Linked DNA regions of Homo sapiens. The protein of the gene in region 1 interacts with the protein of each later gene in a biochemical or structural test. Each region holds a gene or a part of one and is shown on either strand. Other genes may lie near its edges. The genes, in order: RNF19A and CGAS.

What was found.
Region 2: the proteins of RNF19A (region 1) and CGAS form a complex in vitro, tested with the Homo sapiens proteins (one study listed by BioGRID).

The regions. Positions count from the first base shown.
Region 1 is NC_000008.11:100,253,674-100,269,836, forward strand, and holds the end of RNF19A (E3 ubiquitin-protein ligase RNF19A), read right to left. Parts: intron 15,275-16,163; coding exon 15,112-15,274; intron 11,113-15,111; coding exon 10,998-11,112; intron 10,523-10,997; coding exon 10,361-10,522; intron 8,083-10,360; coding exon 7,869-8,082; intron 6,325-7,868; coding exon 6,181-6,324; intron 5,574-6,180; coding exon 4,883-5,573; 3' UTR 3,394-4,882; downstream 1-3,393. UniProt on the Homo sapiens protein: E3 ubiquitin-protein ligase which accepts ubiquitin from E2 ubiquitin-conjugating enzymes UBE2L3 and UBE2L6 in the form of a thioester and then directly transfers the ubiquitin to targeted substrates, such as SNCAIP or CASR.
Region 2 is NC_000006.12:73,449,298-73,456,162, forward strand, and holds the start of CGAS (cyclic GMP-AMP synthase), read right to left. Parts: upstream 3,001-6,865; 5' UTR 2,885-3,000; coding exon 2,228-2,884; intron 1-2,227. UniProt on the Homo sapiens protein: Nucleotidyltransferase that catalyzes the formation of cyclic GMP-AMP (2',3'-cGAMP) from ATP and GTP and plays a key role in innate immunity.

The DNA.
Region 1 (16,163 bases):
GCCTCAGTTACCCCCATCTGTAATGAAGATAGTAATACCTCCTTCACAGAGTTGTTCTGAGGAATAAGTATTTTATTTTGAACCAACTCTAATGATAATTAAGACTTTAGTATATAATTTGATATACAATTACCTTTTGCATCTTTCTAAATTATATGACCCCTATTCACTGTTCAAGGTAAACCTAATATTACTTTTTAATTTAACTTTAAAGTTCAGGGGTACATGTGCAGGTTTGTTATATAAGTAAACTTGATAAGTTATATTTTTCTTTTATTGTTTGCTTTTCCATAAGTTACTATTTTAAAAGTGCTCGGAAAGTATTTCACACTTCAAAGCACTGTAAAAGTGTTTAATACAAACATTCACAAGTGATAATTGTACAGTGATATCCCAAAGAATCTGGAGATAAACCATTGGAATTAAAAGAGTAAGATTCACCAGATACAAAATTGTTAATACAAAATCAATGGCATTTCTCTATACTATTAGTTACAAACAGAAAATGAGGCTGGGCGTGGTGACTTATGCCTGTAATCCCAGCACTTTGGGAGGCCGAAGCAGGTGGATCACTGGAGGTCAGGAGTTTGAGACCAGCCTGGCTAACATAACGAAACCCCTTCTCTACTAAAAATACAAGAAATTAGCTGGGCGTGGTGGTGGGACACCTGTAATCCCAGCTACTCAGGAGGCTGAGGCAGGAGAAACACTTGAACCCAGGAGGCAGAGGTTGCAGTGAGCTGAGATCGCACCACTGCACTCCAGTCTGGGCAACAAGAATGAAACTCTTTCTCAAAAAGAAAGAAAGAAAATGACATTTTAAAAATATACATTATAGGATAAAAAATATCAAGTACCTGGGAATGAAATTTAACAAAAGATGTAAAAGAATTCTATGGGGATAATTATAGATTCAATGTAATCCCAATCAAAATTAGTGAAACACAACAAGGTTATTCTAATATGTTTATGGAAATATAAAGTGCCAAGGACAGTCAAGACACCATCCAAGGAAAAAACAGTGGCAGACTTGCCCTATTAGATAGCAAATTCAGATTCCAAGACTGATGTCTAAATTGTCCACTAACTCACCTTGGAGATGTTTCTGAAAATGCTCATTCACCAGGTATGTTTTTACATGGTTCCTTCATTTCCTTTAGATCTTGGGACAAATGTCTTCTAGAGACTTTTCCTGTTCTGCCCTGTATAAAACAGTACTGCTTCCCCAAAATCCCAGTCACTCTTATTGTGCCCACCTCTAATTTTTCATAGCAATCATCATCTGGTTATTTTACATCTCGTTCCATTATTTTAAGCTACATGCATATGTTTATTATTTTTGTATCCTCCAAATTCTAATACAAGCCCTCTGAAGCCAGGGTGTTTGTTTATTTGGTACTATGCTGTATTTCCAGCATCTACTTTGTTGAACGAATAAATTGGTAGAAGTCACAAAAATTCTGACTAGCATATGATGTACAGTGATCCAATCTGAACTAAATTTTAAAACTGCAAACTTTTTCATATCCAGCTATTAAATAATAGCCACCCTAAATAACATAACTCTCCCCAAGTTTAGAATACTATTTTTGGCATTCAAAAATCAACCAGTATGTAAACACTGGCTGTTAAGCAATGATATCTCATGCTCTAGTGAAGGAAATAAATGAAACAACAAATCCATTAAAAGGAACCATATGAAATGCAGCCTTGAGAAAAGAATTTTTTTCCTTAGATCCAAGTACAGACTAGAATCTGTAAGAAGCGTGATGACTGTGAATGGAAAGGCAAAACAATCTATGGAGCAGGAGTTTCTTTTGCTCATGTCATGTAGCAATTAATAGCTCCGATAGTTTTCAACACATACTTTATCCTTTGGTGATTTGTCTATATGTTTACCTAAATAACAGGCTAGGGAAAGTCTTACATGTTTACAAATTAACACAATTTCCAGGAAAAATAAGTTAGGAGTGGTGGATTATGTGCATTTAATATAAAAAGCTAACTAATTAAGTGCTCTGAAGCTGGGAATTTGTACAATGAAGTGAATCTACCAGTTAAATTGGTGGTCTACATAATCAACAGTAGGATATACTATTATAATCTTTGTATTTCTTTTCTCTCATTACCAGATGATTTTTCCAACAGGCTTTAAAGTACAAAGAGTTTTAACAAGATTTCAGTGAGTTAAGGTTTATTTTGAATACCCTGGAGGTATCTCTTGTTCAAGGCTAGCCCAGAGTTGAGTTCCAGGGAAAACTGGCTTGGTCCTAAATTAATCCAACTTTGAAGGATACAGGAGACAAGGAATTTCTGAAGCTAGTTGAAAGGTCCAGGAGACAAGGAATTTTTGAAGCTAGTTTTAAGGTGAGACTGAAGTGGTACTGGTTGGGAGTATCACCAGAAGTAGGTGTAGGGTGAATGAATGCACCAGCCTCCTATAGGGCACTATTTTTGCTGTATTCCTCTGAAGATCATTTAGCTTTCCATTTCATCTTTAGCCTTTTAAAGAAATGTCAACAAGGCAGTCAACATATTCATAAGATTATTTTGGCCGAGCATGGTGGTTCACGCCAGTAATCCCAGGACTTTGGGAGGCCGAGGTGGGTGGATCACTTGAGCTCAGGAGTTTGTGACCACCCTGGGCAACATGGCGAAACCTCGTCTCTACTAAAACACACAAAAAAATTAGCCGGGCGTGGTGATGTTTGCCTGTAATCCCAGCTACTTGGGAGGCTGAGGCACGAGAACTGCTTGAGCCCAGGAGGCGGAGGTTGCAGTGAGCTGAGATCGCACCACTGCACTCGAGGCTTGGGCTACAAAGTGAGACTCCATCTCAAAAAAAAAAAAAGATTATTTTCATGAAGCATTAACTATATACCAGGGAAACAGAAAAACCATCTATGCATTTTACAGAAGCTACAAGAATAGAAAGCATCTGATTACAATTAGCTTGAATTTAAATGGCTCATTTCATAATCTAATGTTGCTAGAATAGAATCTCTTAAAATAGTCTTTTAAGATCTTTTTACTTTTTTCCCCTTTTCCCAAGTTAGCTGATCTTTCCACTTTTCTGAGGATTTATAATACTGATTTCTCTTCACAATTTAATGATACATATATTTACTCAAGTTAAATTCAACCAATTTACTCAAAAAAATTATGTTGATGTATACAGTATCTTTTTTTCTGGTGGAAAGGCAGGAATTAGACAGGAAAAAAGGGTAGTTTCTAACACTGTTGAAAAGTTCAGCAAATGCTTCCCCTTGAGCTGAGACCAGAAGGCAGAATAATCACAATGGCTTGCAATATTTATGAATACTACCACATGGCCAATGAATATTCTCATTCTTATTAAAAAAAAACACTTGTGTACACACCAGAAGGCAGCAGTACATTAGTATTTACATTTATTTAACGTATGCAGTTTACACACTCATTATTAAACAAAATTGGAATGCAAACAAATATACAAATACCATAAGCATTATCAAATAAAATAACTGGCACTAGTGTTATAAGCATATTAATGGACCTGGTAGGGAAAAGTGATGGAAGAAGACTGCAGCCCATGGCATTTTTCTTTTTACCAAAAGAAAACGCTCAGTAGCACCATAATGGTAATACTTAAAAGAAATACATAAGATAGAACATTTTAACTGCTATCATTGAGGTTAACCTGCTTTTATTTAAGTGAATTATACAGGAAATTAACAGTACAGGCAGTATTTTGGCCAACTTCTGCTTATGTCAGCTGAACATTGTCCATAAACAAAAGCAAAAGAAAATAATGCTAATCATACATGGACCTTTTGTACTTGGTACAAGTTCTGCACCGTGCTTTGATTTCATGGTTGGAGAAGATATGCATGTGTTAAAAACTGAGGTTATGTAAAGTTATTCACTAAAGCCTGAGTGTGTCTTTGGTAGGCTAATACTTTTTCAGCATTATTAATCACATTCATGTTTATCTATTTCCTGTATTTTTATATATAATCCAAGGTGACCAGAGAAGACATGGAAAACAACACAGCAAAATCCTCAAATAACTAGGCCATTAAAACCCAGTCGATCCCAAAGGCACCAAGAATCAATGGGGTACAAACTTCCCCTTAGAGAAAGGTGGATTTTTTGTAATACTTATAACCTAATGGGACTTTATTTTGTAGTTTTATGTATCTTATTTGTTGCTGTCATATGCTTAATTACTTACCTTTACATTTTTTCCTCTAAGATGGCATCAACAATAAACAAGATAGAGTACCAGGTATTTCTATTTCAAAGTTGTGCAAAAACTGCCACAATCTTGCTCAAAGTGTCTAAGTATCCAAATGGTAGCAAATGAGCTGCATTAAGCTTTATATAACCACATTGCATATGAAGAAAAAAAATGAAATTTATGCCGATATAAATAGAAATGTTACAGAGTATCATATACTGAGAGTAACCTATGCAGTTCTTTTAAACTTATCTCTTTAGTGGTTTCAATAAAATATCACTAACCACTTATCCCTAAAGCCTCAAGTTTTCTTCATTTGAATGCTGTAGAATTGCATTAGTATTTTATATTGATTATATAAATTAAGACCAATTTCTATCTAAGTATGTGCTTCAAGCAATGTTTTGTGGCAAACACACAAAACATGCTTTGCTCTTCAAATTTATTATCCTTAAAATAATGCACTTTTAAAGCCTTCACTTCATAGTTTGGTAACTAAGATCCACATGACACACAATGCCTTGCTGAACACAGAAAATGTATCTGCATTATGATAATGAAACCCGGCTTTTGCTGGTAACCTGAAACTTAAGTAGTCACATGTAGTTCAACCAGCTCCAAACACGGTTGTACAGTGGTAATTATTCTGCAGCATTTATGGGCCTAAATTTCAGTCTGAATTGCAACTTTTAATTCCATTGTCTGATGTGAGTGGTTGTTATTTGTTTCTTTTAGTGCATCGCCAAAATATAAATCAACATTAGGTTTTATTCCATTGTTACCATGTTCTTCAGCAATATGATTCAACTGTGAAACTTCTGAACAGGAAGCAGTTTGGGTAACCACAGAAATGCTACACTGATGTGGGGAATTTTCCAGACGGTCATTTTCTACCTCAGGAAGAATGTTAACAGTAGCAAAGCGGGTGTGATAATCACTGGAACCATGACTACAAGAAGTTTTCATGCTTTCTAGGTCAGAACAACTAAATTCAGAAAAATGACTAGAGTGAGAATCTGCTACAGAAGGCATACTGTCACTGAGGGATGGAGCCTCAAATTCACTTGAGTTCGTGCTTTGTTGTTCTAACAACTGTGCATCCATGTCCTCTCTCGTCTCATTTATCTTCATGTTACCCTTTTTCCTCAGTTTACCACTTTTTGATTTTTTCCCTGCTGTTGCTTCTTTGGACCACTTGGTGGCACTAGATTTACCTTCAGGCAAGCCACTGGATGAACCGCCAGCATGACTTCGGGTGGCACTGCCATCATCCACACTACTGCTTCCACTGTTGTGCCTGAATTTGGATGGCTTTGACTCAATATCTACTTGCACCTCCATACTGTTGCCTTCTCTGAAATATAAGAGTAACAAATACAAACATAATTGCTGACTTCTTTTTGTTCAGATGACTGGGGGAAGGGTTTCTATGTGGAAAATTCAGACTATATATAAGCTATGAGAACACCTTAACGCAGAACACGTTCTACTTAAAAAACATACTTGATATAACAGAACTCTTTATAATGCTTCAATGTTTTAAAATAGTGGTGGACACATTTATTGCTTATGCTGTTCTAGACACTATGCTACCTTTTTTTAAAGAACAGCTTTATTCAGATACAATTCCCCTGTTTAAAGTGTACAATTCAGTGATTTTTAGTTGTGATCAGAGCTGTGCAACCATCACCACTACCTAACTTCAGAACATTTTCATGATCCCAAAAAGGGATCTTGCATCCATTAGCAGTTAGTTACCATTCTTCCCTTTCCCAGCCCTTGACAACCACAAATCCACTTTATGATCTATACAGATTTGCCTACTCTGGACAGCTCACTGTTTCCTTTTCTCAGAGAACTTAATAGTTGGTAGCCACTTTTCACTGGTAATTTGTCTAATGATAGGAATTATTCCTTTAATTTAAAAAATACTTTCAATTTTTTAACAGTTTTTTCCTTACTTGTCCAATGGGATGTAGGAATTCAGAATGGATCCTGCCATTGCTTTGGTGCTGGCATTATCACTAACTGTTCCCAAGCTGACTGTGCCAGATTCTCCACTTAGACTGTACCGTTCTTTCTGTACATCTGCTTGTACTTCCAACCTTAAAGGGGGGTATGAAATCACCAAAATTATATTTAATATCAGCACTACTGTAATATGTATCTTTAAATAATTCAGTTAAGAACCCTAGTAACCAGAAGCTATTTTAGGAACCATTATTTTTTATTTCCTTTTATTTAATTTAAATTCTACTGCAGCACACTGCATAGTACCAGCCATCCAAATAAAATGGGGAACATCAGCTGTCTGCCAAGTAAAGTGGTAATGAAATAACACAAAAAAGACACAAAGGATTTTCACTTAAATGTACTCCATTATTCTCACTCAGCATATGGCACTTTGTAATGTTTCAATGCAAAACACAAAGTTAGAATACATTATTAATCATTAAACATGACACACCAATGAATCCAAAAATCCTGGGCATCTATATTAAAAAATGACTCTATAAATAACACCTGCCTTTTAATACTTTATTTATTTATATATATTTTTAGAGACAGGGTCTCGTTATGTTGCCCAGGCTGGTCTCAAATTCCTGGCCTCAAGCTATCCTCCCAACCTGGCCTCCCAAAGTGCTGGGATTATAGGTATGAGCCACTGAGCCCAACCAACATTTGCCTTTTTAAAAAGAGGTAGTATATACCACTATAACTTAAGAGTTTGTATTTAAAAGGCAAACTACCTAAAAATAAGATGTCTAATTTATCTTTTAATTCATGTATTCTCCCCTACACTTAAAAAAAGCAAGGCTAATAAGCCTAAGTGAAAAATAGTGAATTAAAGAGAAACAGGGGAAGATAATTTTTCCTACTTATCTATATGGCTATTGATAAAAGACTTGGTGAGAACAAAGTAAGCAAGCATTAATACATAAAAGGACCCTAGCCGATTATCCCGGTCCCAGTTCACACATTCCTGGATGTCCTGACTCCACCTGTTTCCCAGGACTCAGCCAAAGTCCCATCTCCTAATATCTGGCTGTTGTTACCCACAGAGGTAAGATCTAGGCTTAAGTACTGCCTTTGCTTCAATGTCTACTGAAGCAGCTGTAGCAACGATTTATAATATAAAATGTGACAAGGACAGTGAAAAAATTGGCAGAATGTTATTCCTTAGACTTAGAAATCTACCACCAAATTTTTCTTTTTTTTTTTGAGACAGGGTCTCACTGTCACTCAGGTTGGAGCTCAGTGGTGTGATCTTGGCTGACTGCAGCCTCCAACTCCCAGGCTCAAGTGATCCTCCTACCTCAGCCTCCCGACCAGCTGGGACTACAGGTGCATGCCACCAAATCCGGCTAATTTTTTATATTTTTTTAGTAGAGATGGGGTTTCGCCATGTTGCCCAGGCTGGTCTCGAACTCCTGAGCTCAGGCAATCCACCTGCTTTGGCTTCCCAACATGCTGGGATTACAGGCGTGAGCCACTGCACCTGGCCCCAAATTTCATTTTTAACATTACTATTTTGAACCTTGACATAGTAGGGTTATATATAATCATCATGCTTTATGTTCAAAATTCTCACCTAATTAATAATTTGTAGTTACCAGAAAGCAGAACCAAACCAAACCAAAACACACACCTGTTAAAACAGTTTACCATGGCACTTCCTGACAGACTCCCCGTTATACTGGCTCCAGCTAGTGCCATGGTGCTGGCCGTTTCACTCAGGTTGTCTCGGATGGCTCCTATTCGATCCATGTGGCTTCCACTTGCACTCAAACTGCCAGTCAGCCCACCAACACTTCCCTCCCCTATGCTTGGGTTGTGTCTTGCTTCTGCTACTGATGTTGTGTCTAAATGCAAATATTCCAAAGAAACTAAGTAAGTATGATTATCAATTTTCTCCTTCTTAAATTCCTCCATGATTTCAGAGAGGACATTATATAAGGTATAAAATATACGCAGACATGGAAAAATATTTTTTTCAGGCTAGTCCACTAGAAGCAGTGGGAATAGAGCCAACAATTTTAAATGGTCACTAGTTTCTTTTTTCAAAAACCCAGATTTAGGAATTCTATAAAGAATATGATTGTTAAAAAATATCGCTGACTTTAGAGGAAAATTATGTGACAGTTTTCATTAAGGGTGTCATTTAAAGAGCTTATTATTCTCTAGGTCAGTAAGAATAGGCTAAAAGTTGATTTCTAGATATATGCCACAGTTCTGTCTACAAGCTATTATTAAGATCTGATAACACTATGTTCCAATTTTACAGTACCTCTCACACATTTTGTATTAAGGAGTCACTTATTTGCACCAATATTTGAGTTCCTATTATATACCCAATCACACGGTGACAAATGCTATGAGGAAAAATACAAGAGAGTAAAGGGGAGGAGAGTGATGAAAAGTGCATGTACGTACATGTCTGTGAGCCATTTTATATGATGTGATGACAGAAGGCCTCTTTGATAAGGTAATACTTGTAGAGACAAATGAAGTAAAACAGTGAGTCATGAAATTTTCTAGGGAAAGAGTATTCCAGACAGAGAACTGCCAGTTTAAAAGCCTAGAAGTAGGATAATGCTTGGCACCCTCAAAAATCAAGCAAGAGTGGTATAAAATAAGAGGGTGACAAGAGATGAGCTCAGAGACATAGTTGGGGCAGATCATGTGGGGCCTTTTGGGCTATGATAAGGACTTTGGATTTTCTTCCCCAGTACAGTTAGAAGCCACTGGGGAAGTTTTGAGCATAAGAAAGTTATAATCTGACAGGGTTTAGACATGTGACTATGGCTGCACTATGGACTAGTGAATAGAAGCTGAGAAGTTGATACAGCAGTTAAGAGGCTATTACAATAGCCCAGGAAAGAGGATGGTAGCTTGGACTAAGGGAAGGACAACGAAGAGAGTAAGAAGTGGCTGGATTATGGCTAAATATTGAAGGAAGCAGCAGAATTTGCTGACAGATCAATCAGATGTAGGACAAGAGGGAAAAGAGGGAGGCATTGTTAAGTGAAGGTTTTTGGCCCAAGCAACAGGAGGAATGGAGAAGCTACTTATTGAGTTAAGGAGGATGAAGGGAAGAAGAGATTTTAGAGCCAAGAATTTGGCTGTAGACAAGTTAAGCTTGAAATTCTTGTTAGACACTCAAGTGCAGATTAAAGAGGAAAGTTACACATGCAAGTTTGAAGTTCAGGGGAGAGGTCGGTCTATGCATTATTTAATAGATGAGATTAGGGGAAAAGTGTAGATACATAAGAATTCTGAGAACTGAGCTCTGGGGAACAAACATTTAGAGGTCAGAAGAGGAAAATGAACCAGCAAAGATTAATGAGACGGACTGGCCAGGAAATATGGTAAGAAGTGGTTTCCCATAAGAAAAGTGAAGTATTTCAAGAAGGGTAGAGTCTCTACCATGTCGGATATACTGTTAAGATGAGGACCAAGACCTGACCACTGTATTAGGTTACGTGGAGGCCACTGGTGACTCTGCTTCAGTGAATAGCAGAAATAAAATTCTGGAGTGGTAGGGACAAAAATCTGATTGAGGCCAGTTCAAGAGAAAATAAGAGGTAAGAAAGTAGGCATTATCTTTACACATCTGCCTAATTATTTCCCTATGACAAATTTCTAAAACAAGAATTGCTAGAATATAGAACATGCACTTTTTAAAAAAGGTTTATTGACATACTCCTATAGGCAGTCTATGAAGGCTTTTTTATTCTTCTTAATCTTTGCTCGTTACTGTTCTAATTCACATTTCTTTGAATAACATTGAGTTGAAGATATTTTTGTATTATTGGTCATCCGTATTTCTTTTATTAACTGTATTCCTCTTCATATCCTTTACTTAGTTATTTATAATGTTTCAGGCAAAATTTAAGATGAAAAGTTTATGATTTCTAAGACATTATATTCCAATTAGAGGTCAGATACCCAGAATTACCCCCACCTCTTTCATCCATACACTCCTCCTTGGCAGTTTATTCACTTATGTACTTCTGAATGAATACTATTAGGCCTAGTAAAAGGATGGCAATGGAAATTCTGAGTTGCATGTTATCTCTGGCCTCCCCACTACTTACACTGTTAATAAGCACATTTTCTTCCTTTGCTTAAAGGACTTACCTACAGCTGTGTTAGTTCCACCAACATTTATATCATTTTCATCATCAAATTCAATCCTAACTCCTTTTCCATTGCCTGCTGAGACTCCACAACCTCCGCTTCGACAAAGAGAAATTGGAACTACGCCATAGACATAAGCTAACATAATAGGAACACCGATACCTAAAGAGAAATTAAATCAGTCATTACAAACAACAACAACAAAATAACTCACAGAAACATGAGTTTTAGAAAGTCTTTTCAAGAGAGTCATACAGAGAAAAGCGCCAGGGTTCTGAAGAGTTGGCTGGAACATTTGCCAAAAGTAGATTTACCCAGTTGTTAAGCAAATTCAAGGTTCCCAGCCTTTCAGGTAATGCACATAAGGGGAAAAAGAGAGAGATGCAAACTTTTTTCTTTTGAAGTGCCAGGCCTCCGAACTGTACTTGGGGTGGAGTGGGGAGGAAGGGTATCAGCCACTAACAATTTACCAACTACTTTAAGGCTAGGCTCTTGAATCTGTAATACTTTCAACCAAGACTTACTGCAGGCTCAATTTAAATTGTCCTCAAATTAAAAAACAATTAAAAAAAATCCTTCCACAAAACTTTAACTCCATAAAATTGTAGGTAATTAGTACTTTTCAGCATTTTCTTACCTACAGTCACTGCAGCTACTACTGGAGACACGATTACAGACAACGTTACACCACCTGCTATGGCCAAATTCCGTTTGTGCTTTGAAACATCCTTGCCTTCATAGCGATTGTGAATCTTGAATTAATAAAAATAGGGGTGGGGGATTAAAGAGAAAATACATTACAATTTAACTTAGTTGAAAAAGATCTATACTTGCTAAAGTGATTTTTCATAGAAGTTCGTAGCTGAGTATCTTAGTTCAAGGTAAACCTACTAGTGTCCTTAAACTATTATATATTCTCACAAATAATTTGCTCCTTATTAATTTGCTTAAGACAGTGATTTAATGGATTTTACTTTGTGCTTAAAAGTTCTGAGTAAAAGTCATCTTTATAATCTTAATCAAAAGTAGTGTAATTATGTATCGAGCAAAGAGGAAGAAATTAAGATTATTATTTTCAACACAGTTATGAGTTACATGGTTCACCAACAGGATACTTCCAGCATTCTAAAGGTTTCTTTCTAAAGAATATTCTCTAAATGGTAAAAATTGGCTTCTAGGGAAGGTTTCTTTTTAAAAATTGACCTTAAAAAGCAGTTCTAATAAACAAGTATGAATAAACAGTATTATTTTTTTCTCAGATCCTTTTTATGAAGACAATATTGACAAATGACTCAAATTCCAGGGCTCTCATTTATAGCTCAAAGTAAATGGCAGAGAAAGAAAAAAGATGATAAATAATGGCTACCAGAAGACAGGATTGAATTCACTCAGCAATCTCTGTACAGGACAGGTGTTAATAAGTAGAATTTGATATCATCATAGAAGCGGTGATTAAAAACTGGCTTGTGAAATTATATGAACTTTGAGATCTTTATTTTCATGGTTTGCAAGGGCTAATATGGCACATTTTCCCCCTCTGTTCCAAAACAAATTCAAAACAGCCTCAAAAGTATGGGGACTCTCTAAAATAAAATGACTTATAAACAATACTACAGATGGGACTTATAAAATAATCTATTATTACATGGTATAATAACACCTTTGGCCTTTGGAAGGCTGTAAAGTACGATGAGTGTTGTGGAAAACAGTAGAAAGGTTGGGGTGGGAGGTGGGTGATGCATGTATGGGACAAGAAACCTTTCTATTTCCTAGTCAGAATCCCATTTCCCAGCATTGACTAGAGGTTCCTTGTCAATGAGCCTCCTCACTTCCCTACACAGTCCATGCAGGCAGAGATGGTAGACCTTCCCAAGGTACCTTTCATTATCCTTCAGCACTGCAGCTAATTCCTGCTCCTCCCCACTCCCATTCCTGGGAAACTTAGCACTGAAGAAGAGAAAAGGCACAACTGATGGAGCAGACTTGCAAAGGCAGGCTGCCAAGAGAAAGGAGTCTTCTAGAAAATTTTTCAGCCTCAAGCACCAATGTTTGATTAGTGATCACATTATCCCACTATTTCTGGTTCAACTTAATTTTTCTGTTTACTATTTTTTGCCACATTCTCTACTTTTTATTGTTAAGTGAAGGCTCAGCTTTTGGGTACTTTATTGACTTAGCAGGTTTTCCTAGGCTGGTTGGGATCCCAAAGCACCACAGAATATTATTTCAATGGAAAACTAATTCATTCATTTACAACCCTTTGGGTACATGTTTGAAAAAAGGAGATCTGTAACTGTACCCTATGACCTGAACAATGAGGTAAATAATCTCTTCTCTATAAATGATTTATAGGTACATGTGGTACAACAGTCTCTCTTTCCCTTCTAAGTATCTGAATAGTTTTGTTTTCAGCAAAGCCTTGCTTTGAATAACTACATGAAAAATTACGATCAGCTAATATATTTTGAAATTTTTTATTTTTTCTCTCTTTTTTGGAAATAGGGTCTCTCTGTGTCGCTCAGACTAGAGTGCAGTGGCACGATCACAGCTCACTGTAGCCTCAACCTCACGGGCTCAATCAATCCTCCCATCCCAGCTTCCTTAATAGCGGGGGCTACAGGCATGCACCACCACTCCCAGCTGATTATTTAGTTTTTTGTAGAGACAAGGTGTCACACTGTGTTGCCCAGGCTGGTCTCAAACTCCTGGATTAATGCAATCCTCCCTCCTCACCCTCCCCAAGTGTTAGGATTACAGGCATGAGCCACCACACATGGCCCAACATTTTTTAAAGTCCAGGTTTACTCACTTAAAACCTTCAGAAATAAATATGTGACTTATAAATATGTTTGTCATCAGCCCCAAAACTAATTTTTAAGAAATAGTATATATTATTTTTCTGATTATAAAATGTATGTTGAATATAAAAAATTCAGCTGTTTTACAGAAGAAGATCAACCTTATTCCCAGTCGGGTCCCAGAAGTTAGAAACAGAAATAAAGGAAACAAAAGGAAACAGATCTGACTCAAACGTAACAATTTTGTAACAATTAGTAGCCATTTTACAACAGAATGGATTGCTTCATGAGTTGGTGGTTTCCCCATGACTGAGTTCCCAAATAGCTACTGAAACTTAATCATGGAACTTATATTAAGAATTCATGCATCTGAGTTCAAATCTCAGCTCTGCTTCTTTGTGTGTAACTGAAGATATATTACATAAACTTTCCTAAATCTCAATATTTTAACACACAGAGACCGAAATATCGAGGTTGCTGCAGGGTTAAAATAAGTAAAAGTACATACAACACCTATGACACAGTATGACAACCTTTAGATCCTTTTTTTATTTTAGAGATAGGATCTTGCTCTATCACCCAGGCTGGAGTGAAGTGGCACAATCACAGCTCACTGCAGCCTCCACTTGCCCATCTCAAGCAATCCTCCCACCTCAGCCTCCCAAGTAGCTGGGACTACAGGTGCATACTACCATACCCAGATAATTTTTAAATTTTTTTGAGAGATGGGGTCTCACTATGTTGTCCAGGCTGGTCTTGAACTCCCAGCCTCAAGTGATCCTTCTGCCTCAGCCTCCCAAAGTGCTACGATGACAGGAGTAAGCCACCATGCCCAGCTTGTTAGTTCTTTTTTTTTTTTTTTGAGATGGAGTTTTGCTCTTGTTGCCTAGGATGGAGTGCAATGGTGCAATCTCAGCTCACCGCAACCTCCACCTCCCAGGTTCAAGTGATTCTCCTGCTTCAGCCTCCCGAGTCTGGGATTACAGGCACCTGCCACCATGCCTGGCTAATTTTTTCTGTATTTTTAGTAGAGATGGGGTTTCACCATGTTGGCCAGGCTGGTCTTGAACTCCTGACCTCAGATGATCCACCAGCCTCAGCCTTCCAAAGTGCTAAGATTACAGGGGTGAGGCACCGCACCTGGCCTGTTAGTTCCCTTTTTGAAAATTGCTATCCTTTGTTCTGCTTGGGTACAAGGTTGGGATTAATTTCTTTTTATTTTTTAAAAAAAGTTTTAATTTTTTTGATCTTCTTGGATACCAAAGAAAATTTCTTTTTTTTTTCTTTTAGCTATATTCTACTGAAAGTTACTTCTCAATCCAGAGATTCTATTAATTTAGGCAACAACAGACTTCTTAGGACCTCATAAATTATCCCATTAACCCTTAACAAAAGAACTATTTGCTTAGCTAATGAAATATAATTCATCAATTAGAGGCCAGTGGTAGTCACTGGTGTTTGGACTTTCACAAGATTGTTATAATTTGCAAAATAGTGTATTTATTAAAAGCAGTAATCCAAAAAAAAAGCTTTGAACTACAGCAGAAATAATTCAAGAACTGGCTAATTATTCTTTGCCTGAGGGCATGTGTTATTTAGCTATTAACTTTCATTAAAAAGATCTCATAGACCTGACCTTACAAGGATATACCTATGAGAAAAATCTCAGGTGTGTATCCTTCAATATTTTATACTCAAAGTTTTATAATACAAACATACTAAAATTTTCAGATTCAGAACATTTTAAAGCAAGTCTGCTTTATACGTATTTATATATGCTTGCCAAACACTAAAAATTTATGAAAAAAGAGTAACTGTTTTATACTGAAGAAACTAAAGATACCCTTTGTCTAAAAAAAAAAAAAAAAAAAAACCCAAAAATCATCAATACTAAAAGAATACACCTAAAGATTTAGAATAAGATAATGGACTAACAAGAAGTATGCATTTTACCTTGCGGCCCACATACACAGGAATGCCAATAATCATTGCAGGAATAGCAATGCCAGCTATTAAAGCGATTCCGACAGGAGCACCAACCAGTGTTCCCAGTTGCCACAATATTTTCTTCTTTCGGCTCCAGGGTTTCTTCCCCCAAAAAGTACATCCTGATGGACTAACGGAAAAAATTATAATGTAAATAACTGCTGCAAAACACCACAATAACAAATTAGTGCACTATATTAAAACAATGACTATTTTTAAAAACTTCTCATAGTTAGGAGCTTTTTTCCCCTTTAAATTCTGAGTTCATTAAACTAAGGTAAGAACCACTATAAATTATATTAACAAGATATTGATATATCTTATTTTATATTATATTTTATTATTTAATCTATATTATATTAACAAGATACTGATAACTGAAATTCAGGTTAAAAATTTATCCCTAGTCTTCCATTACCCTCATACCCTTAAGTCAGTTTAATAGTAAATTAATGCAAAACATGCATATTTTTAGGCATCAATTATCTGATTATATCACAAACTCACTCTGTAGCCTAAACGATAAAATTTATGTATGGGAAAATTCAATGAAGTATAAGGTAAGAACCACTGTAAATTATATTAACAAGATACTGATAACTGAGATTCAGGTTAAAAATTTATCCCTAGTCCTCCATTATCCTCAAACCCTTAAGTCAGTTTTTTAATAGTAAACTAATGCAAAACATGCATATTTTTAGGCATCAATTATCTGATTATATCATAAACTCACTCTGTGCCTAAATGATAAAATTTATGTATGGGAAAATTAAATGAAAGTATTTATGGGTCTAGCATAATTACACAGGGTATTACATACTTACTAGCATTCTAGTTTAACAAAAACAAAAAAAGGAAATATCCATTTCCTATTTTGACTAGTTATTAATTCCAAATGACTAGCATAATAACTTGGTTTCTTTTAAATTTATTTAACTAGAATAAAACCAATCCCTTTAAGTATCTTATAAAACCCAAATTTAAGACAAGTTATTTTGTCTTACAATATAAAATTACAT
Region 2 (6,865 bases), on another chromosome or scaffold:
AACCCCGTCTCTACTAAAAATACAAAAATTAGCTGGGCATGGTGGCGGGCGCCTGTAGTCCCAGCTACTTGGGAGGCTGAGGCAGGAGAATGGTGTGAACCCAGTAGGCAGGGCTTGCAGTGAGCCGAGATCGCGCCACTGCACTCCAGCCTGGGTGACAGAGTGAGACTCTGTCTCAAACACACACACACACACACACACACACACACACAAAGTGGTTCTGAATGGAGACTGTCTTCTGAATGTCTTGTTCTCTAATTCTAACTAGTAACTTTCTTTTTCCTTTGGACCCGCCATATACAGTAATTGAACTGAATTGATACTTACATAATAAGAATCATGCTCAATCAGAGACATATCTGATGCTGAAAAGTAAATTAGTTAATTAAAAAGAATCATGCTCAAGACACAGTCTGGGCTGGGTGCCGTGGCTCAAGCCTGTAATCCCAGCACTTAGGGAGGCCGAGGCAGGTGGATCATCTGAGGTCAGAGTTCGAGACCAGCCTGGCCAACATGGTGAAACCCCGTCTCTACTAAAAATACATAAATTAGCCGGGAGTGGGGGCAGGCACCTGTAATCCCTGCTATTTGGAAGGCTGAAGCAGGAGAATCGCTTGAACCTGGAAGCCGGAGGTTGCAGCGAAACCTAGATGGCACCACTGCACTACAGCCTGGGCAACAAGAGTGAAACTCCATCAAAAAAAGAAGAAAGAAGAAAGAAAAGAAAGAAAGAACAAAATAAAGAGAGAGAGAGAGAGAGGAAGAGAGGGAGGGAGGAAAAGAGAGAGACAGAGAGATAGAGAGAAGAGAAGAGAAGAGAAAAAAGAAGAGAAAAGAAGCCGGGTGTGGTGGCTCACGCCTGTAATCCCAGCACTTTGGGAGGCTGAGGCTGGCAGATCACCTGAGGTCGGGAGTTCTAGACCAGCCTGACCAACATGGAGAAAGCCCGTCTCTACTAAAAATACAAAATTAGCCAGGGTGGAGGCTCATGCTTGTAATCCCATCTACTCAGGAGGCTGAGACAGGAGAATCGCTTGAACCTGGGAGGTGGAGGTTGAGGTGAGCTGAGATCGCGCCATTGCACTCCAGCCTGGGTAACAAGAGCGAAACTCCGTCTCAAAAAAAAAAAAAAGAAAGAAAGAAAGAAAAAGAAAAAGAAACAAATCTCTTGCTGGGCAAGAAACACGCTCCAGTCAGGAACCTGCTTCTAAACTTTCAATTTACACAGGAATGATTAATGACTCAATCACCCACAAGCAAATGGAGCTGTGTAATACACACGTCGAAGCAATTATACGGAATGTGTATCTAGAAAGCGTTTTAGTATCTGTAGGAGATATTCTTATTTGTTTGTTTAACATTATACTGTAAGCTTCCCATGATTTCTGTGTAAGAAACTGGGGACAGACGGCCGGGCGCGGTAGCTCACGCCTGTAATCCCAGCACTTTGAGAGGCCGAGACGAGCGAATCAAGAGGTCAGGAGATCGAGACCATCCTGGCTAACACGGTGAAACACCGTCTCTACTAAAAATACAAAAAAAATTAGCCGGGCATGGTGGCGGGCGCCTGTAGTCCCAGCTACTCGGGAAGCTGAGGCAGGAGAATGGCGTGAACCCGGGAGGCGGAGCTTGCAGTGAGCCGAGATAGCGCCACTGCACTCCAGCCTGGGGGACGCAGCGAGACTCCGCCTCAAAAAAAAAAAAAAAGAAAAGAAAAGAAAAAAGAAAAAAAAGAAATTGGGGTCAGACGGGATAGCAGGAGAGGGGGCAGGGAGGAAGAGGGGGAGAGAAACTGAAGATCTTTTTTTCTATGGAGTAAGAGGTCTTCCTCATAGGAAAAAGTCTACGTGGAATTTTTAACAGACCACTTCAAATTATCCAAGTCAATATCTGACTCGGGACCTCAGGTCCACACCATCAAACACTGCCCTGTTACGGAAACTCGATACATGTCGGCTTGCATGAATGAACCCATACATTTGAATTCCCCCGGGAGCAGTGTCTTGAAATTAGCCAGCAATCAGTACCGGTTGGTTGTCTGATCGTTGGATGTGTAGATGAATAAACGAACGGTTTGTCGTTTTACTTAGACTAGGCTACCGAAAAACATGCAAAAGTCTAAGTTACTTCCGAAGGGAAGTGAGGGGCGCGACCCGGGGAAGGTAGGGACTGCGGATTGCGGAAGGCCGAGCAGCGGGGCTCGGCGGGAGGGCGCCAAGCAGCTCACCTTCACGTGCTCATAGTAGCTCCCGGTGTTCAGCAGCCCGACGCCTCTGAACGCGGAGTCGCACTTCAGTCTGAGCAGCAGGTGGTCCACAACCCCTTTCACCATCCCCGCCGCCGTGGAGATATCATCGCGGCTGAGCTTCAACTTCTCCAAAACCGCCCGGAGCTTCGAGGCCCCAGGCGCCGCATCCCTCCGTACGAGAATGGGGGCCGAGACCGGCAGGCCGGGGCTGGGCACGTCCCAGGGCCCGGGCGGAGGTCTTGGCTTCGTGGAGCAGCGCGCGCCCCTCTGGCGGCAAGAACCAGCCCTGGAAAGAGCCGGCTCCCGAGCCGCAGGAGGCTCCAGCCCCTCTGCCCCAGGGGCGCTGGTGGCGTCAGACGGCTGCGTGTCCTGGGCGCGCTGAGGGGCCTTTTTGGCGCGGGCCCCAGTTGCGCGGACGGGCGGCCTCTCCTGGGTGTCCGGGGCGCTCTTTTTCTGCCGGGATCCCGACTTCCTGGCGGGGCCGAACTTTCCCGCCTTAGGCAGGGCGGCCTCGGGGGCAGCCGGAGACTCGGTGGGATCCATCGGGGCGCCCCTGGCATTCCGTGCGGAAGCCTTGGGGGCAGTGGCTCCGGCCTCGGAAGCTCTCTGCATGGCCTTTCCGTGCCAAGGCTGCATGGCTGGCGCTTTCTGTTCCCCGAAAGAAGAATCCGTTTCAGGAAAAGGCCGCAAGAGGAAGAGCCAGCAGCAGCTGTTGGAAACCAAGCACTACTGGCGGGCACACAAGAGTCTGCGACCCGAAGGGGAACCCCAGGCTGGGAAGTCGCTGGGAGCCACGCCCATGCCGCGAAGAGGCTGGCCGCGGCCTTTCCTGAGGCTACAAAAGTCTCGAAGTTTCTAACTCTCCAGGCAATCCGTGCCCCTGTCTTAAGAAGATGAGGTAGGGCCGGGCGCGGTGGCTCACGCCTGTAACCTCAGCATCCGAGAGGCCGAGGCAGGCGGGTCGCTTGAGCTCAGGAGTTTGAGACCAGCCTGGGCAACCCAGCAAGACCTGGTCTTTCTTATAATTAAATATATGTGTGTGTGTGTGTTGCCTGGGCACACTGACTCACGCCTGTAATCCCAGCAATCTGGGAGACCGAGGTGGGCGGATCACCTGAGGTCAGGAGTTCAAGACCAGCCTGGCCAACAAGGCGAAAGAAACCCCGTCTCTACTAAAAAATACAAATATTAGCTAGGCGTGGTGGCGGGCACCTGTAATCCCAGCTACTCGGGAGGCTGAGGCTGGAGAATCACTTGAACCCGGGAGGCGGAGGTTGCAGTGAGCTGAGACGTGCCACTTCACTCCAGCCTGGGCGACAGAGCGAGACTCTGTCTCAAAAAAGAAAAAGAGGCCAGGCGTGGTGGCTCACGCCTGTAATCTCAGCAGTTTGGGAGGCCGAGGCGGGCGGATCACGAGGCCAAGACATCGAGACCTTCCTGGCCAACATGGTGAAACCCCGTCTCTACTAAAAATACAAAAAATTAGCCGGGCTTGGTGGCGCCTGTAGTCCCATCTACTCGGGAGGCCGAGACAGAGAACTGCTTGAACCCGGGAGGCAGAGGTTGCAGTGAGCCGAGATCGCGCCACTGCACTCCAGCCTGGGCAACAGAAAAAGAGTCCATCACAAAACAAAACAAAACAAAACAAAAACATTGACAGAGAAACTTTTCTCTTTCAAGTGAAAGTTTTTTTAAATTTAATTTTGGTTTGAGTTAGGGGGGCGCAATCTCGGCTCACTGCAACCTCAGCCACCAGGGCTCAAGCGATCCTCCCACCTCAGCATCCTGAGTAGCTGTTACTACAGGTGCGGACACCATGCCCAGCTTTTTCTTTTCTTTTTAATTTTTTTGTATACATGGGGAGGTCTCACTATGTTGCCCAGGCTGGTCTCGAACTCCTAGACTCAAGCGATTCTCCCTCCTCAACCTCCCAAAGTGTTGGGATTGTAGGCATGAGCCACTGTGCCCTGCCACAGAAACTTTTTCTTTTCTTTTTTTTCTTTTTCTTTTCTTTCTTTCTTTCTTTTTTTTTTTTTTTTTTTTTGAGACAGAATTTCGCTCTTGTCACCCAGGCCGAAGTGCAATGGTGCGATCTTGGCTCACTGCAACCTCTGCCTCCTGGGTTCAAGCAATTCTCCTACCTCAGCCTCCCGGGTAGCTGGGATTACAGACGCCCGCCACCACGCCCGGCTAATTTTTCGTATTTTTAGTAGAGACGGGGTTTCGCTATGTTGGCCAGGCTGCTCTCAAACTGCTGACCTCAAGTGATCCACCCGCCTCGGCCTCCCAAAGTGCTGCGATTACAGGCGTGAGCCACGGCGCCTGGCCAGAAACTTTTCCCTTTTTTTTTTTTTTTTTCCTGAGATGGAGTCTCATTCTGTCCCCTAGGCTGGAGTGCAGTGGCACGATCTCGGCTCACTGTAACCTCTGCCTCCCGGATTCAAGCGATTCTCCTGCCTCAGCCTCCGAAGTAGCTGGGACTACAGGTGTGCGCCGCCATGCCCGGCTAATTTTTGTATTTTTAGTAGAAAGGAGTTTCACCATATTGGCCAGGCTGGTCTGGGACTCCTTATCTCGTGATCCACCTGCCTCGGCCTCCCAAACTGTTGGGATTACGGGCATGAGCCTCAGCGCCCGGCCAACTTTTTCAATGTAAATTTAAATAGGGTTTTTTAAAAATCAATAAGAAATAAAATAATAATTTTTAAAAAGAAAAAAATTAATAACAAATGAAAAATACTTTGAAAAAAGAAAAAAATAAGAAAGAGAAAATATTCAACTTTTACAAGATGGAATGAAACAAAGATTGACTGCAATTGGAGTAAATACTTCTATTTGACATTTTTTAAAAAGCACAGAAAATCTTTAAAATGTTGTGTAAAGTTTCTGCCTGGTGCGGTGACTCACGCCTATAATCCCGGCACTTTGGAAGGCGAAGGTGGGTGGATCACTTGAGGTCAGGAGTTCAAGACCAGCCTGTCCAGCATGGTGAAAACCCATCTCTACTAAAAATACAAAAATTAGCCAGGTGTGGTGGGCCATGCTTGTAAACCCAGCTACTGGGGAGGCTGAGACGGGAGAATTGCTTGAATCGGGAAAGCGGAGGTGGTAATGAGCTGAGATCAGACCACTGCACTCCATCCTGGGCGACAGGGCAAATGACTCTGTCTCAGGGGGAAAAAAAGTTGTGTAAAGTTCTCTCTTTTTATTTTATTTTATTTTATTCATTTTTGAGACGGAGTTTTGCTCTTGTTGCCCAGGCTGGAGTGCAATGGTACAATCTCAGCTCACCACACCCTCCGCCTCCCGGGTTCAAGAGATTCTCGTGACTCAGCCTCTTGCGCAGCTGGGACTACAGGCGTGCCCCACCATGCCCAGCTAATTTTTGTATGGTTTTGTAGAAATGTGGTTTCACCATGTTGCCCAGGCTGGTCCCCAACAAGCTATCTGCCCGCCTCAGCCTCCCAAAGTGCTGTTACTGGCATGAGCCACTGCACCGGACCTGGCATTTACATTTTAAATCATTCATACTGCTTCAGCTGTTGTGATTCTAGAGTATCTCAATACAGGCTTTCAAATATCTTTTTTTTTTTTTCGAGATGGAGTTTCACTTTTGTTGTCCAGGCTGGAGTGCAATGGTGCTATCTCGGCTCTCTGTAACCTCCGCCTCCTGGGTTCAAGCGATTCTCCTGCCTCAACCTCCTGAGTAGCTGGGATTATAGGCGCCTGCCACCACACCCAGCTAATTTTTTTACCTTTTTAGTAGAGACGGGGTTTCACCATGTTGACCAGGCTGGTCTCGAACTCCTGACCTCAGGTGATCTGCCCCCTTTGGCCTCCCAAAGTGTTGGGATTACAGGCGTGAGCCACCTTGCCTGGCCTTCAAGTATCTATTTCTAAAGCCCCTGATAGAAATGCATATTAGAGGTCAGGCGCAGTGGCTCATGCCTATAATCCCAGCACTTCAGGAGCCCTAGATCTTCTGAGATCAGGAGTTCAAGACCAGCCTGGCCTACATGATGAAACTTTGTCTCTACTAAAAATACAAAAAATTAGCCGGGTGTGATGGCACATGTCTGTGATCCCAGTTACTCGGGAGGCTGAGGCAGGAGAATAGCTTGAACCCAGGAGGCAGAGGTTGCAGTGAGTGAGATCCTGCCACTGCACTCCAGCCTGGGCAACAGAATGAGACTCTGTCTAAAAAAAAAAAATAATAATAATAAAAGAAATGCATATTAGACAAGAACCTCTTGGGTTTAGAAAGCCTTGACTACTTTTTTTTTCTTTGTACTATTTGAACCATTTTTGGGGGGTGTATAATTCAATGATATTAAGTATGTTCACATTCCTATGCAACCATCACTATCATCTGTCTTCAAAACTCTTCATCTTGCAAAACTGAAACTCTGTACCCATAAACAATAACTCATCTTTCTCTCCTCTCTCTAGCCCCTGGCAACCACCATTATACTTTCTGACTGTGATTTTGACTGCTCTAAGTACTTTATGTCAGTGAAATGATGCAACGTTTGTCTTTTTGTTACTGGCTTATCACTCTTAGCCAATGTTCATCTATGTTGCAAGAATTTCCTTCCGTTTTAGGGCTGAATAATATTG